Linked DNA regions of Homo sapiens: region 1 is linked to region 2. Evidence: fine-mapped expression QTL. A gene starts in region 2. The other region holds a variant in brackets. All regions are shown on one strand. Distances are from middle to middle.

The links. PIP is the estimated chance that this variant, and not a neighbour inherited with it, causes the effect. A credible set is the group of variants that fine-mapping cannot tell apart.
Region 1: its variant is the best candidate, but not a certain one, in a credible set for the expression of ERI1 in lymphoblastoid cells (GENCORD, PIP 0.50).

Annotation. Positions count from the first base shown.
Region 1 is chr8:9,058,682-9,064,050 of GRCh38, reverse strand. It overlaps a transcript of ERI1 not described here. Among named protein-coding and RNA genes, the nearest start is that of SNORD3I, 2.7 kb to the right of the region's middle. RefSeq lists an enhancer at 2,942-3,487. The variant G/A (reference allele first, on the strand shown) is at 2,252.
Region 2 is chr8:9,000,542-9,005,910 of GRCh38, reverse strand. ERI1 (exoribonuclease 1) reads right to left here and starts at 3,014. Exons shown (of 7, transcript NM_153332.4): 1 at 2,740-3,014. The coding sequence starts at 2,847. LOC105379227 (a long non-coding RNA gene) reads left to right here and starts at 3,169. Exons shown (of 3, transcript XR_002956680.2): 1 at 3,169-3,250.

The DNA of each region.
Region 1 (5,369 bases), 58 kb before region 2:
CCTTATTTACACACCCCAACCCCTTTCCTGCTTTTCTGGAGGGTAAGAACCCCTGAACCCCTTCCCTCCGTGTCTCTACTCTCTCTTTTCTCTGGGCTTGCCTCCTTCACTATGGGCAACCTTCCACCCTCCATTCCCCCTTCTTCTCCCTTAGCCTGTGTTCTCAAGAACTTAAAACCTCTTCAACTTACACCTGACCTAAAACCTAAATGCCTTATTTTCTTCTGCAATGCCACTTGACCCCAGTATAAACTCTACAGTGGTTCCAAATAGCCAGAAAACGGCACTTTCAATTTTTCCATCCTACAAGATCTAAATAATTCTTGTTGTAAAATGGGCAAATGGTCTGAGATGCCCGATGTCCAGGCATTCTTTTACACATTGGACCCTCCCTAGTCTCTGTTCCCCATGCAACTCATCCCAAATCTTCCTTCTTTCCCTCCCGCCTGTCCCCTCAGTCCCAACCCCAAGCATCGCTGAGTCTTTCTAATCTTCCTTTTCTACAGACCCATCTGACCTCTCCCCTCCTTGCCAGGCCGAGCTAGGTCCCGATTCTTCCTCAGCCTCCGCTCCTCCACCCTATAATCCTTTTATCACCTCCCCTCCTCACACCCGGTCTGGCTTACAGTTTCATTCCATGACTAGCCCTCCCCCACCTGCCCAGCAATTTCCTCTTAAAAAGGTGGCTGGAGCTAAAGGCATAGTCAAGGTTAATGCTTTTTCTTTATCTGACCTCTCCCAAATCAGTTAGTGTTTAGGCTCTTTTTCATCAAATATAAAAAACCCAGCCCAGTTCATGGCCCCTTTAGCAGCAACTCTGAGACGCTTTACAGCCCTAGACCCTAAAAGGTCAAAAGGCCGTCTTATTCTCAATATACATTTATTTTATTACCCAATCTGCTGCCGACATTAAATAAAGCTCCAAAAATTAAATTCCGTCCCTCAAACCCCACAACAGGACTTAATTAACCTGGCCTTCAAGGTGTACAATAATAAAGTAGAGGCAGCCAAGTAGCAACATATTTCTGAGTTGCAATTCCTTGCCTCCACTGTGAGACAAACCCCAGCCACATCTCCAGCACACAAGAACTCCAAACACCTGAACCGCAGCTGCCAGGGGTTCCTCCAGAACCTCCTCCCCCAGGAGCTTGCTACAAGTGCCAGAAATCTGGCCACTGGGCCAAGGAATGCCCACAGCCCGGGATTCCTCCTAAGCCACGTCCCATCTGAGCGAGACCCCACTGAAAATCAGACTGTTCAACTCACCTGGCAGCCACTCCCAGAGCCCCTGGAACTCTGGCCCAAGGCTCTCTGACTGACTCCTTCCCAGATCTTCTCAGCTTAGCGGCTGTAGACTGACACTGCCGGATTGCCTCGGAAGCCTACAGGACCATCACAGATACTCTGATTAACTCTCACAGTGGAGGTTAAGTCCGTCCCCTTCTTAATCAATACGAAGGCTACCCACTCCACATTACCTTCTTTTCAAGGGCCTGTTTCCCTTGCCTCCATAACTGTTGTAAGTATTGACAGCCAGGCTTCTAAACCTCTTAAAACTCCCCAACTCTGGTGCCAACTTAGAAAACATTCTTTTTTGCACTCTTTTTTAGTTATCCCCACCTGCCCGGTTCCCTTATTAGGCCAAGACATTTTAACTAAATTATCTGCTTCCCTGACTGTTCCTGGACTACAGCCACACCTCATTGCTGCCCTTTTCCCCAGTTCAAAGCCTCCTTCGCATTCTCCTCTCGTATCCCCGCACCTTAACCCACAAGTATAAGATACCTCTACTCCCTCCTTGGCGACTGATCATGCACCCCTTACAATCTCATTAAAACTTAATCACCCTTACCCACTCAATGCCAATATCCTGTCCCACAGCACGCTTTAAAAAGATTAAAGCCTGTTTTCCCTCACCTGCTACAACATGGCCTTTTAAAGCCTATAAACTCCCCTTACAATTCCCCCATTTCACCTGTCCTAAAACCAGACAAAGTTTACAGGTTAGTTCAAGACTGTGCCTTATCAACCAAATTGTTTTGCCTATCCACCCCGTGGTGCCAAAACCATATACTCTCCTATCCTCAATGCCTCCCTCCACAATCCATTATTCTGTTCTGGATCTCAAACATGCTTTCTTTACTATTCCTTTGCACCCTTCATCCCAGCCTCTCTTCGCTTTCCCTTGGACTGACCCTGACACCCATCAGGCTCAGCAAATTACCTGGGCTATACTGCTGCAAAACTTCAC[G/A]GACAGCACCCATTACTTCAGTCAAGCCCAAATGTCTTCCTCATCTGTTACCTATCTCGGCATAATTCTCATAAAAACACACATGCTCTCCCTGCTGATCATGTCTGGCTAATCTCCCAAACCTCAATCCCTTACAAAACAACAACTCCTTTCCTTCCCAGGCATGGTTAGTGCGGTCAGAATTCTTACAAAAGAGCTGGGACAGCACTGTGTAGCCTTTCTGTCCAAACAACTTGACCTTACTGTTTTAGCCTAGCCCTCATGTCTGCGTGCAGCGGCCGCCACTGCCCTAATACTTTCAGAGACCTTTAAAATCACAAACTATGGTCAACTCACTTTCTACACCTCTCATAACTTCCCAAGTCTATTTTCTGCCTCACACCTGATGCATATACTTTCTGCTCCCCGGGTCCTTCAGCTGTACTCACTCTTTGTTGAGTCTCCCACAATTACCATTGTTCCTGGCCCGGACTTCAATCTGGCCTCCCACATTATTCTGGATACCACATCTGACCCTCATAACTGTATCTGGCTGATCCACCTGACATTCACCCCATTTCCCCATATTTCCTTCCTTCCTGCTCCTCACCCCGATCACATTTAGTTTATTGATGGCAGTTCCAGCAGGCCTAATCGCCACTCATCAGCAAAGGCAGGCTATGCTATAGTATCTTCCACATCTATCACTGAGGCTACCGCTCCGCTCCCCTCCATTACCTCTGAACAAACCGAATTAGTTGCCTTAACTCAAGCCCTCGCTCTTGCAAAAGGACTACGCGTCAATATTTATACTGACTCTAAATATGCCTTTCATATTCTGCACCACCATGCTGTTATACAGGCTGAAAGAGGTTTCCTCACTACGCAAGCGTCCTCCATCATTAATGCCTCTTTAATAAAAACTCTGCTTAAGGCCGCTTTACTTCCAAAAGAAGCTGGGGTCATTCACTGCAAGGGGCATCAAAACGCATCAGATCCCGTTGCTCTAGACAATGCTTATGCTGATAAGGTGGCTAGACAAGCAGCTAGCTTTCCAACTTCTGTCCTTCACGGCCAGTTTCTCTCCTTCACATCGTTCACTCCCACCTACTCCCCCGCTGAAACTTCCACCTATCAATCTCTTCCCACACAAGGCAAATGGTTCTTAGACCAAGGAAAATATCTCCTTCCAGCCTCACAGGCCCATTCTATTCTGTGGTCATTTCATAACCTCTTCCATGTAGGTTACAAGCCGCTAGCCCGTCTCTTAGAACCTCTCATTTCCTTTCCATCATGGAAATCTATCCTCAAGGAGATCACTTCTCAGTGTTCCATCTGCTATTCTACTGCCCCTCAGGGATTGTTCCGGCCCCCTCCCTTCGCTACACATCAAGCTTGGAGATTTGCCCCCGCCCCCCACCAGGATTGGCAAATTGGCTTTACTCAACATGCCCCAAGTCAGAAAACTAAAATATCTCTTAGTCTGGGTAGACACTTTCACTGGATGGGTAGAGGTCTTTCTCACAGGGTCTGAGAAGGCCACCGCGGTCATTTCTTCCCTTCTGTCAGACATAATTCCTCGGTTTGGCCTTCCCACCTCTATACAGTCCAATAACAGACCAGCCTTTATTAGTCAAATCACCCAAGCAGTTTCTCAGGCTCTTGGTATTCAGTGGAAACTTCGTACCCCTTACCATCCTCAATATTCAGGAAAGGTAGAACGGACTAATGGTCTTTTAAAGACACATCTTACCAAGCTCAGCCTCCAACTTAAAAAGGACTGGACAATACTTTTACCACTTTCCCTTCTCAGAATTCAGGCCTGTCCTCGGAATGCTACAGGGTACAGCCCATTTGAGCTCCTGTATGGACGCTCCTTTTTATTAAGCCCCAGTCTCATTCCAGACACCAGACCAACTTGGACTGTGCCCCAGAAAACTTGTCATCCCTACTATCTTCTGTCTAGTCATACTCCTATTCACCATTCTCAACTACTCATACATGCCCTGCTCTTGTTTACACTGCCGGTTCACACTGTTTCTCCAAGCCATCGCAGCTGATATCGCCTGGTGCTATCCCCAAACCGCCACTCTTAACTCTTAAAGTAAATAAATAATCTTTGCTGGCAAGGCTATGCTGAACCTCCTTAGGCACTCTCTAGGTAGATGTCCTAGGTCCTCCCAATTCTTAGTCCTTTAATACCTGTTTTTCTCCTTGTCTTATTCCCTTCTTTTTTCACTTCATACAAAATTGTATCTAGGCCATCATCAATAATTCTATAAGACAAATGTTTCTTCTAACAACCCCACAATATCACCCCTTTCCACAAAATCTTCCTTCAGCTTCTCTCTCCCATTCTAGATTCCCACGCTGCCCCTAATCCTGCTCGAAGCAGCCCTGAGAAACATCGCCCGTTATCTCTCCAAACCACCCCCAAAAATTTTCGCCACCCCAACACTTTACCACTATTTCATTTTATTTTTCTTATTAATATAAGAAGACAGGAATGTCAGGCCTCTGAGCCCAAGCTAAGCCATCATATCCCCTGTGACCTGCATGTACACATCCAGATGGCCGCTTCCTGCCTTAACTGATGACATTCCACCACAAAACAAGTGAAAATGGCCTGTTCCTGCCTAAACTGATGACATTGTCTTGTGAAATTCCTTCTCCTGGCTCATCCTGGCTCAGAAGCTCCCCTACTGAGCACCTTATGACCCCCACTCCTGCCCGCCAGAGAACAACCCCGCTTTTTCCTTTACCTACCCAAATCCTATAAAACGGCCCCACCCCTATCTCCCTTCGCTGACTCTTTTTGGACTCAGCCCACCTGTACCCAGGTGAAATAAACAGCCTTATTGCTCACACAAAGCCTGTTTGGTGGTCTCTTCACACGGACGCGCATGAAAGTTGGTTTGTATGAGACGGTTAAAAAGGCCAAAGATAAAAGATTTATTTATTTATTTATTTATTTATTTATCAATGAAGTTGCTGTTTATTTATTTATTTTTTTTGGCCTATTTCACAGATGTGTGAAACAATGTTGTCCAACGATGAAATGGAATTTTATTTTGCTGAGTTGTTCTAACAACAACAGCAAAGACATCATGCATAAATCTTGTATAAGATCCACACATGG
Region 2 (5,369 bases):
GGTTTATATTATCTCAAATAAGAGAAGCTTTTACATTATGGGATGTGGCCATGAAAATCTTCTATACCAAACAGAGGTTTACTATCTTGTGGCAAACTACTTTAAAACTGTCGTTGAGGCCGGGCGCGTTGGCTCACGCCTGTAATCCCAGCACTTTGGGAGGCCGAGGCGGGCGGATAACGAGGTCAGGAGATAGAGACCACGGTGAAACCCCGTCTCTACTAAAAATACAAAAAATTAGCCGGGCGGGCGCCTGTAGTCCCAGCTACTCAGGAGGCTGAGGCAGGAGAATGGCGTGAACCCGTGAGGCGGAGCTTGCAGCGAGCCGAGACTGAGCCGCTGCACTCCAGCCTGGGCAACAGAGAGAGACTCCCTCTCAAAAAAAAAAAAAAAAAACATAAAAAAACTGTTGTTGAACTTAAAGATGAGTTACAAATTTTCTTTTACAAAAAGACAGGTATTCTATAATTGCTGTCCTCTTCTTATTGGGAAGGGTACCGGAGCTTGATTTTTAGCATTTTTTTAAAGGAACACAATCTGTTGTTGCAAGAAAAAAGAAAACACATTTTAACAGTAAGCTACAAAGTAACTGCTTGTCAAATAAAACTTTTTCTGTATAGAGAACATTTTGAAAACATGTTCTGGAAATGCTATTATTCTGCTGCCAAAAATCTAGGTACTACCTTTTAAAAAAAGAAAAGGAAAACCTCTGCATCTGCACACTGAAAAAAAACTTAGAATTTTTCTTGATTGACGTTCTTCCAAAAGGAGAGTTCTGATGAAATCTGAACCTACTTATTAAAAATATAAATATGCAATAGCTTCTACTAGTTTACAAAGACAACTAGCATTAGAGATAATGGAAATTTACCACCTGAATTCAACAAAAAACTTTGGCCCAGATTGAAAAACACTGTATCATGGCCAGGCGCAGTGGCTCATTGCCTGTAATCCCAGCACTTTGGGAGGCCGAGGTGGGCGGATCACCTGAGGTCAGGAGTTCCAGACCAGCATGGCCAACATGGTGAAACCCCATCTCTACTAAAAATACAAAAACTAGCCAAGCGTGGTGGTGGGTTCCTGTAATCCCAGCTACTAGGGAGGCTGAGGCACGAGAATCACTTGAATCCGGGAGGCGGGAGGTTGCAGTAAGCTGAGACCATGCCATTGCACTCCAGACTGGGCAACAAGAACGAAACTCCGTCTCCAAAAAAAAAAAAAAAAAAGTATCATTACTATTATTTTTTGAGACAGGGTCTCACTCTGTCACCCAGGTTGGAGTGCAGTGGCACGATCACAGCTCACTGCAGCCTCCACCCATGGGCTCAGGTGATCCTCCCCACTGAGCCTCCCCAGTAGCTGGGACTACGGGAGAGGGCAACTACGACCGGCTTTTTGTAAAAAAAAAAAAAAAAAAAAAAAAAAGTATCACTATAAAGAGCATGCAACAGTAAGTTTTTAACAATTACTACCGTCACTAAAGCCAATTTGGAACAGAGACCTAGGCCTTAAGTAGCTGTAAAAGTGTCAAGACTTTCAAATATAAAGAAGCATATTCAAACACACTTCTTTTACTAAAAATAAACTTCGAAATTTATTTTAAAACCCACTTACAGGATGAGATTGACAACGTATCTCAGGCTGAAGAGGGAGGCAGGTGGAAGAGTGGTTCTTTACAAGAGAAGGGATGTGCAAGTACTCTTTGAAATAACAACCTTAGAAGGAGAAAGATAATTGCAAGGATCCAAAGGAAGTGCACACAGGGCAAAAGGAACATACAGAGATCCTTAACGAGACCTTCTTTCCAATGTCAAAGAACACAAGGCAGCGAGGGGCACTGGGAACAAAAGGGAAAAAACTGTGTGAGATGCAATTACCAAGGGAGGCAGGCACCCGACCCCGCAGAGCAGCAAATGGAAGTGACTCAGGAGGGGAATAAGCCAAATTCATGTTATTGAAAAGCTCATTCTAGCTGCCAGATGGAAACTGACTGTGGACGGAAGGAGCAAGAGTTAGGAGGCCTCTTGCAAATACGCACTTTATGAAGCTTTACGAAGTGTTCAACATGTTTATTATTAGGAAAAGATCAATTTTAGTATTCAATCACTTACAATCCGCAGCGCTAGTCAACAATTAACATTCGTTAAATAAGTTTTAAGACTGTTCTACAACTTTGCCACTGTAACTAAGTTCAACCGATGAGATGTCAAAATGATTCATTCAATCTTATACTATGGTTATATGAGACACCAGTTAATGAGCAAAAGCAGCTAAGACGAAGCTCCACTTAACAGGTACAGAGACAGGGATGCTGGTGAGTGCTTTTTAAATTTTTTCTTTTTTTAAAAACAGGCATGAAGTGACATACCTAGCGTATATGGTGAGATTTTAAAAACATAAAGCCTTGCAAACTACCCATAACGGCTACATGGAGTGACAACAGCAACCGTGAACACAGAATTAAGTTTAAAGCAAAACTCCCTCTTAGAACCTGTTAACCCACTGTAGACAGAACTGGTCTTGACGATTTCCTCCCTCCCAGAGAGTGATTCGGCCCTGAGGGGGCTCCAAGACACCCACCCGAGGATAAAGCCAGGGAGCTGGGCACCGAGGAAGAGGCTGGGGTCCAAGGGCGCACAGCTGCACCTTCTGCGGGACACCTGAGAAGAAAGGGGTGCCGAGGGCGCTTTGGGGACGGGGCAGCTGGCGCCAACAGCCAGGCGCGGGTCGACTCCTCACCTCGGGACTGGGACGCGGCGGCTCCTCCCCGCCCTCCGGCCGCGGCGACTCCAGCAGCGCGAGAGCCACGGCCTCGCCGGCAGGCTCTTTACTCTGTGGATCCTCCATGCCGGCTGTCACGCCAGAGGAGAGTTGCTGGAGCCGGACACTTGCTAACTCTCACTCTGCAGAGCCCGAAAGCCTCGCCTTTCTCCGTTGAAAAATTACCGGGCTCGCGTTCCCGCGGCGGCGGCCACACAAACTCCAGCGGCCACCTCCCACTTCCGGGAGCGTGTGGCGTCCACACGCCGGGCAGGCGCAGTGAGCCGGCGTGCGCGGAACGCCAGCGCCGCAGTCCACAGGGGGAGGGAGGACGAACAAGAGGGAGGCGCGCCGGTGAGAAGACGGGGCGTGGCCGGCCGTAGGCGGAGCTAGCGCGGGTTGAAGTTGCGCAAGGATCTAGTCCAGTCACTGGAGGGTAGCACCGGCACGTGTGTTCCCGTCAGTGTTTCCTGAGAAGGAAAAAAGTAGGGTGAGTGGGAAGATATCATAGAGAAAGATGTTTTCGACCATAAAAAATAATAAAACAATTCACATTTTCCATAAGGAGTTTCCTAAAACTTCCACTCTGGGCAAGAAAAGAAAATGGGTCGGGACTTAGTGTCCCACTATAAACAATTAGAAAACGGAACAAAATATAGGAGACACCTATTCAGACATTGGACAACGGACAGCTGTGGACTGTTTTACCTGAGAGAAAAGAAATAAAAGGAGCCGTATATCATCCTGCCCTTTTGCCCAGAGGCGATTTCCAGTCTGTGGTGCGATGAAAGGAAATCATATGGAAACCTAGGATCTCCTGGGTTGAAAAGACAGAGATTGGAGTTGACGAAATTGGGGTAGGCCAAGTCGGTTGGAATTTGTAGGGCAGAATTCTGGAGAGGAGGGAATTACATGGAAAAAGAGCTTCAGAAATCTGCTTAGGAGTACCTTGAATCTTTAACTGAATAAAAAACGTGAAACTCCACAAGGCCAGGAAAGAACAATTACTGGGGAGCAGTACACCAAACAATGGTGAGAGGTCACACAGAACTGGGAATCATTTGAGCTCCCAGCAACCAGAGTGAAGAGATTATTGAATACCATGGAACACGCAATAGAAACCTCAGATGTGAAACTGCCATTGCAAAATTATCATTGAGACAGTGAAAGAGATCAGACCTAACCAACTCCATCTTGCTTTTAACCTCCAGGCTATCCTTATTCATTCCTAGGCGTAGGCCAAACTAACACTGGGAGGAACTTAGTGTATAGCTTATAGTTTAAAACAAAGGTGATAGCCCTTTCTCAAAATAAACCCTCTTCTTGAGACTAGACTGCTTTTGTAGGACTAGTAAATTAGCCGAAAGATTAGAAATTATGATTTAGGACTCATGCAGCTGAAGGCTACAAGATTCTAACCCTCTCCAAATTGCTCCTGGGGATAATATCACTATTGTAAAATCTAAGATCAGTGCTTGAGATATTTTGCAGGCCCTGCACTTGATGGATCAGCTGGCACCTCCCAGATTGATAAACTGACTCACCTGATCTTGGATAAACTAGCTCATCTGATTTTGTGTCCCCCACGGGAGGAACTGACTCAGTGCAAGAGGACAGCATCGACTCCCTATGATTTCATCTCCTACCCAACCAGTCACCACTCCCATCTCACTGGCTTCTCACCCACCCAATTATCCTTAAAAACTCTGATCCCCAAATGCTCAGGGAGACTGATTTGATTAATAAAACTCAGGTCTCCTGCACTGCCAGCTCTGCATGAATTGCTCTTTATTGCAATTCCCCTGTCTTGATAAATCGACTCTGTCTAGGCAGTAGGCAAGATGAACCTTTTGGGTGGTTACGAAAGTGTCATGCCTTAGTGAGATATAATAACCGTAGACTGCAGGACCCAGAACATAAACTACTGTAGATTCTTCAAAAGCCTTAAAACAAGCCCTGAAAGGATCAAACTGCTCTGTAAGTAACCTAATTACCTGTAAGAACAAATTCTAAAACTCTCTGAAAGACTACAGTAAAATCCAGGATTCAACAACATTAAATTCAAAATGTGAGACATCCAGTCAAAAATTGAAAGACACGCAGCACTTGGGGATGCTGAGGCGGGAGGATTGCTTGAGCCCAGGAGTTTGAGGCTGCAGTGACCTATGATTGCACCACCACAACCCAGCCTGGGTGACAGGGTAAGACTCTGTCTCAAAAGAGAGAGAGAGAGACCAAGTGGTAAGAAAATATCTCACGAAGTTCATAGAAACAAACCCCAAAATGATAAAAATGATGGAATTAACAGACAAGGATTTTAAACACCTGTTATGAATATGCTCAAAGATTTAAAGGAAGACATGATAGGAGAGAAACTGGAAAGATTTTTGAAAAATCAAATTTCTGGATGGAGGTGAAAAATATTTGAAATAAAAATTTCTTTGGATGGGATTGCTAGCGCATTAAGCAATGCAGAGAAAAAGGTAAATAAATTCAAAGATATAGCAACAGAAACAATACAAAATGACACACACACACACAGAAAAAAGATGAATACAGCTTCAGTAACCACTTAAAGAGGCTTAATACTTCAGGACCACTTGAAGAGG